Regions from separate parts of the Homo sapiens genome. Here region 2 is linked to region 1. The links come from fine-mapping of genetic effects on gene expression. A gene starts in region 1. The other region holds a variant in brackets. All regions are shown on one strand. Distances are from middle to middle. Region 1 holds the start of ZC3H3 (zinc finger CCCH-type containing 3). Region 2 overlaps ZC3H3 (zinc finger CCCH-type containing 3).

Region 1 (2,911 bases):
GCAGTGGCTTGATCTTGGCTCATTGCAACCTCCGCCTCCTGGGTTCAAGCGATTCTTCTGCCTCAGCCTCCTGAGTAGCTGGGACCACAGGTGTGCGCCACCACGCCTGGCTAATTTTTTATATTTTTAGCAGAGACGGGGTTTCACCATGTTGACCACGCTTGTCTCAAAACTCCTGACCTCGTGATCCGCCCGCCTCAGCCTCCCAAAGTGCTAGGATTACAGGCGTGAGCCACTGCGCCCGGCCGAATTTCCTTCCATTTTAAGGCTGAAAAATATTTCATTGTTTGTATGGATCACATTTTGTTTATCCTTCCATCCACCCGTGGACACTTGGGTTGTTTCCGTCTTTTGGCTATTGGGAAAAATGCTGCAGTGAACATGGGGGCACAAATATGTTTGAGTCTCTGGTTTCCATTCTTTTGGGAATATAGCCAGAAGTAGGGTTGCTGGATCATACCGTAGTTCCATTTTTGTTTTCTCCTAGAAAGGCAGATTGCCACATGCAGCGCCTCATTTGGATGTGTCTGGAATCTTGACTACCCTACCTTCTCCTACAAATGGACCTTGAGAGCTTGTTTGGAGGTTCTACCAGGGAAGCCCAGCTCTTCTATTGGGTATGGTCGTTCTCTTCGACTGAGCTGCAGCTTCGGGAGGGACGCACATGAAGCAGTGAGGAAGGAAGGGGACACCCGCCTAGCCAGCCAGATCAGCCGAATCAACCCTGGCGATCAATGGGATGACAGGTGTCGCAGCCAGATCGCCCTCATATCCGGTAGTTCTACTTTTAACCTTTTGTGGAATCTCCATAGTTTTCTGCGGTGCTGCGCCATTTACATTCCCACCAACAGCGCACAGAGGTTTACACTTGTACATGTTTCCAATGACGAACTAAAAACTTTCATGTTTTCAGAGGTTCAACATGTCTATCCAGGGAACCTTGCTCTCCGATGTCTTCTCCTCTGGCCACAGTAAGAGGTTTCACAGACCCTCCTGGGTCAAGAGTAATTGTTAACTGGCCCTTCTCCCATGGGTCCCCGCGTAGACCCCCCCCCCCCCAACACTCAACTGGGGCGAAATGAAACGCAGGGACTGTGGGAAGGAACTGCGGTATGGGCTGGGTGGGCCCCAGGTCTCGCCCCTCGCCAAGTCTCCCAAGGGGACGCGATCCCGGACTGCACAAGCTGGGCCCGCGCGGCCTCCCAGAGCCCAAGCAGTCCCTTCCCAGCCGTTACCAGGCCACTTCCCGGCGCTCACTAGTGACGTCCCCGCCTCGTTCTGCGCGTGCGCGGCTCTGCCTCTCCGCTGCCGTTGTCAGCGCGACGGCGGGTCCTCGGCGGTCGGCAGACATCCGGGCCTGCTCCTGGCAGCTCCGCCCTGGCCCGCTCCGCCCCGCCCGCGGGAAAAAGGTCGCGTAGCGATGACGTCGTGGGGGCCTGGCCGGCCGTCGCGGACTCGGGAGATGGAGGAAAAGGAGATATTACGGCGGCAGATCCGCCTACTGCAGGGTAGGTCCGGCCGGGGCCGGGACGCGAGTCCCCTTCTTTCCCCCTCACCTCGCGGCGGGTCCCCTGCCCCCTTGTCGAAGGGGTCGCTCACCGCCCGCGTGTTCTGGGTGGCGGCTGGGGTGGGGGACGGTAGGGTCCGCCAGGACTTGTGGGCCGGCTCAGGGCCCGGGTCAGTCCCCGGCTCCAGCTTTGTCGAGGGAGTGGTGCCGGCCCTGCTGGGGCTGCAGAGGGTGGAGGCAGGGCCGTCGCTTAGTAACCCGCGGGGGGCGGCGGCCCTCCCCACCACCGCGGGCTGTCGCGTCCCCCGGCGCCCACTCTCTCCCCGCGCCCCACTGCGGGGCTGGGACTAGTTCATGGCTCATTTCGGCAGAGCAGGCTAAGGGCGCACGCGGGTTCCTTCCTTGACGCCCGGTTTTTTTTGAGACAGAGTCTTGCTCTGTCACCCAGGCTGGGGTGCGGTGACGCGATCACGGCTCACTGCAATCTCCTCATCCTGGGTTCGAGTGATTCTCCTGCCTCAGCCTCCGGAGTACGTGGGATTACAGGTAGGCGCCAGAACGCCTGGCTAATTTTTGTATTTTGAGTAGAGACGGGGTTTCACCATGTTGGCCAGGATGGTCTCTAACTCCCGACCTCAGGTGATTCACCCGCCTCGGCCTCCCAAAGTGCTGGGATTACAGGCATGAGCCACCGCTCCCAGCCTCGACGCCCGGTTTTGATGCCCCTTTTCTCCGAACAGTCACACTCCCCTTGCCATTCCAGGCGCAGACTGAACAGGCTTCAGCTTCCACACTTAAACATTAAAAAACCCAAATTGGTCTTTCTAAACTTAAAAAGAAAATCCATGTTCGGACGCAGTGGCCCACACCTGTAATCCCAGCACTTTGGGAGGCTATGGCAGGAGGATGGCTTGAGCCCGGGAGTTTGAGACCATCCTGGGCAACATGACGAGAGCCCGTCTCTACAGAAAAATTTTAAAAAGTGAGATGGGCGTGGTGGCTTGCGCCTGTAGTCCCAGCTACTCAGAGGTGGAAGGTTTGCTTGTGCCCTGGAGGTCCCGGCTGCAGTGAGCCGTGATTGGGCCACTGCACTCCAGCCTGGGCAACAGAGAAAAACCACATCTCAAATAAAAAGCCAAAACCAACCAAACAAAAAAAAGCTTTAAAAATTAAAAATCCTTTTTGCTTTTACTCTCACAAAGGGAAGACTTAAGGATTGGGAAAGTGTGTATGGATAAGAGGCCAGGTGGGCTGCCTCCCACTTGGGGACACTTCTTGAGCTCCCATCACACCTGCTCTGGGGCGTCAACACGTCTGGACGTGGCTTTCTGTGCCCCCGGGGGCAGGGCCTGTGGTGGGGGAATGCTGATAACTGGGAGGCTGGCTGCTGCCGCCCTTGCCTGT
Region 2 (2,911 bases), 80 kb after region 1:
TACGAAAAGTTAGCCGGTTGTGGCGGCAAATGCCTGTAATCCCAGCTACTCGGGAGGCTGAGGCAGGAGAATTGCTGGAACCCGGGAGGTGGAGGTTGTGGTGAGCTGAGATTGCGCCACTGCACTCCAGCCTACGTGACAAGAGTGAGACTCTGTCTCAAAAAAAAAAAAAGAGACTCAGGGTCTGGGCGCTGCTCCTGGTGGCTCTAGGTGGGACAGCTGCTCCTGCAGGGCGCCCTGGTTCCTTCTGGGTGTGTTTAGGACTCAGGGTCTGGGCGCTGCGTGTGCTTGTTGCAGCTAGGGTGTTGGCTGCTGCCAGCGCCCCCAGTGCACAGGGCTGGGGAGCATCGTGTGCACGTGTGCAGGGGTGACAGTGACTCCATCCCCACCTCTGCATTGAGAGCTCCTGCACACCTTGGCCCTCCTGCATCTGCAGTGCCTGCTCCGTGAGCCTCCGCGCTGCCGTTTTCCCCACACCCTGTGTGTGGTTGGTGCCTGTCTGCAGGGAGCTGTCGGGAGAGGGAAGGCCCTGGCTGAGCCTTGGGTTTCAGCTCCCCAAGTGCGAGCTGAGACCTGAGTCACCTGGGATTCCCCTCACGCACACCCTGCCTTCATCCTCCAGGCTTGCAAGGGCTCCTGTGTCCTCTGGACAGCGCCTGTCTTGGTTTTGTTCACATACAGCGCTTCTCTGTTGGTGCCTTGCTTTCGCCAGTGCTGCCCTTTGTTAGGCCGAATCCTTCGTCCTTTATGAGGCAAGGTCCTGACATCCTTTGCCCTGTGATTTGTGCTCGGGGTCTTGTTTAGGACCAGTCTCCACCCATGGTCACAGAGTGCCTCCTGCATTGCCTGATGCTGGCTCAAGAGGCAGCTGTGGGTGTCGCTTGTCCCTGCACGGTTACTTCCTCCTCTGGCCTCAGTCTCCTTTTATATACAGTCGGGATAACGGCACTGCCTATCTCAGAGGGTCGTGGCGACTCTTCAGGGGGCCACAGTGGGCCTGGCAGTGTCCTGGGTGGCCCTGGCACAGGGAGGCCTCCCTACAAGTCGGCTGCCGTTTGCTGTTCTTCATTTGCGTGTTGTGTGAGGTGGGGCCTCACTTAGTTTTTCTTCATGTCGTGGGTGCTTTCCCTCAACGGTGATCTAACCCTTTGATCTGTGGTGTCAGCTTTAAAAAAAAAAAAAAAGCAGCTTAACTGAAGTACAGTTTCCCTCCCACACAATTCCTCTGCTCTAGGTGTATGGTTCTGTGGGTTTGAGTAAACTTAGAGTGGTACAGCTGCACCACAGCGCAGCTTTCAGTTGTTTTCATCGCCCCCCAGAATTCCCTCACTCTTTTCATCATCAGTCCCGGCC[C/T]CTAACACTCATCCACTTCTGTCTCGGTAAGTTTCTTCTGTGGGCCTTTCGTGTTGCTGGAATCATACAGTACATGGTTGTTTGGCATCTTTGATTTTGCATCATGTTTGGAGGTCTGTCCTGCAGCACCTCAGCGCTGCACCCGTTTTTATTACAGAGTCAAGCCGCTGCAGAGGCTCTCCACACTTTCTTTGTCCGTTCGGGTGGTTGCCAGTTGGGGGCTGTCGTGAATAATACTGCCTCGAATGTCCGCGCTCCAGCCTTTGTGTGGCCGATGCTTTTGCTTCTCTTGGGTAGACACCTAGGAGTGGAATTGCAGGGCCATAGGGTCACTGCAGGGCTACAGGGTCACTCTAGGTTAACAGCCTCCTGTTTTCTAAAACGGCTTCACTGTTTGACACTCCTGCCGGCAGCGAGCAAGGCTTTCGTCTTGCTTACTTCCTCGCTAGCTCTGGGTATCTGCCTTTCTGGCACACCCGTTCTGGTGGGCGTGGCGTGCCGTATCCCTGGGGTTTTGGTTTGCATTTCCCTGATGGCCTGGATGCGCAGAGCACCTGGGTGCTTATGGGCCATTCCTATCTTTTTTTGAAAAACAGCTTTGTTGAGATATGATTCACGTACCACATAATTCACCCATTTTAGTGTACAATTCAATAGTTTTTGGTATATACTGTGTTACTTTTTAATTGTGGTAAAATATATATAACATAAATTTTGACCATTTTTAAGCGTCAAAATGGCACTTAGTTCAATAGCTAACTACATTCACAACACCGTGGAAACATTCCAAAATGTTTTCCTCACTCCTGACAGAAACACTGAGTATTCAGCAATGACTCTCCACTCCCCGCTTCCCAAACCCTAGTTAGACACCTAACTAGTTAGTGAAGGCGCCTCCTCTAGCTATGTCCTCTAAGTGGAATCGTACATTCTGTCCTTTGGTGTCTGGCGTCTTTCACGCAGCGTAATGTTTCCAGGGTCTAGCTGTGTCCCGTCAGTGGAATCATCCAGCATCTGTCCTTTGGTGTCTGGCATCTTTCACCCGGCATAATGTTTCCAGGGTTCACACGTGTAGCAGCACCTCATTCCTTTCTTATGGTAGAGTAACATTCCGTTGTGTGTGCACTGCGTTTTGTTAGTTCCTTCGTGTGCTGGTGGTTATGTGGCTACTGTGACTGGTGCTGTAGTGATTCCTGACAGCCAGGTATCTGTTTGAGCCCCGCTTTCACTTCCTTTGGGTGTATATTGAGGAGTGGAATTGCTGGAGTCTGAGTAATTCTGTGTTTAGCTTTCTGAGGAATCGGCAAGTGTTTTCTGTTGTGGCTGAACCACTTTACGTTCCCAGCAACGGCGCACGGGTTCCCGTTTCTCCACACCCTCCCCACCACTTGTTGTGGTTGAATTTCTTTATTCTAACTTTTTTTGTGTGTGGATTCTTTAGGGTTTTCTTACATATAAGATCATGTCATCAGCAAACAGATAATTTTACTTCTTCCTTTTCAATTGGGATGCCTTTTATTTATTTATTTATTTATTTATTTATTTATTTATTTATTTT

Evidence for each region. PIP is the estimated chance that this variant, and not a neighbour inherited with it, causes the effect.
Region 2: its variant is fine-mapped to the expression of ZC3H3 in whole blood (INTERVAL, PIP 0.98).

The regions. Positions count from the first base shown.
Region 1 is chr8:143,539,973-143,542,883 of GRCh38, reverse strand. It overlaps ZC3H3 (zinc finger CCCH-type containing 3), which reads left to right and starts at 1,437. Exons shown (of 12, transcript NM_015117.3): 1 at 1,437-1,508. The coding sequence starts at 1,463. It also overlaps the pseudogene RN7SKP175.
Region 2 is chr8:143,460,249-143,463,159 of GRCh38, reverse strand. All of the region lies in intron 9 of ZC3H3 (zinc finger CCCH-type containing 3), which reads left to right. Among named protein-coding and RNA genes, the nearest start is that of MAFA, 31 kb to the right of the region's middle. RefSeq lists enhancers at 1-490, 548-717, 738-807, 491-1,204, 1,168-1,277. The variant C/T (reference allele first, on the strand shown) is at 1,354.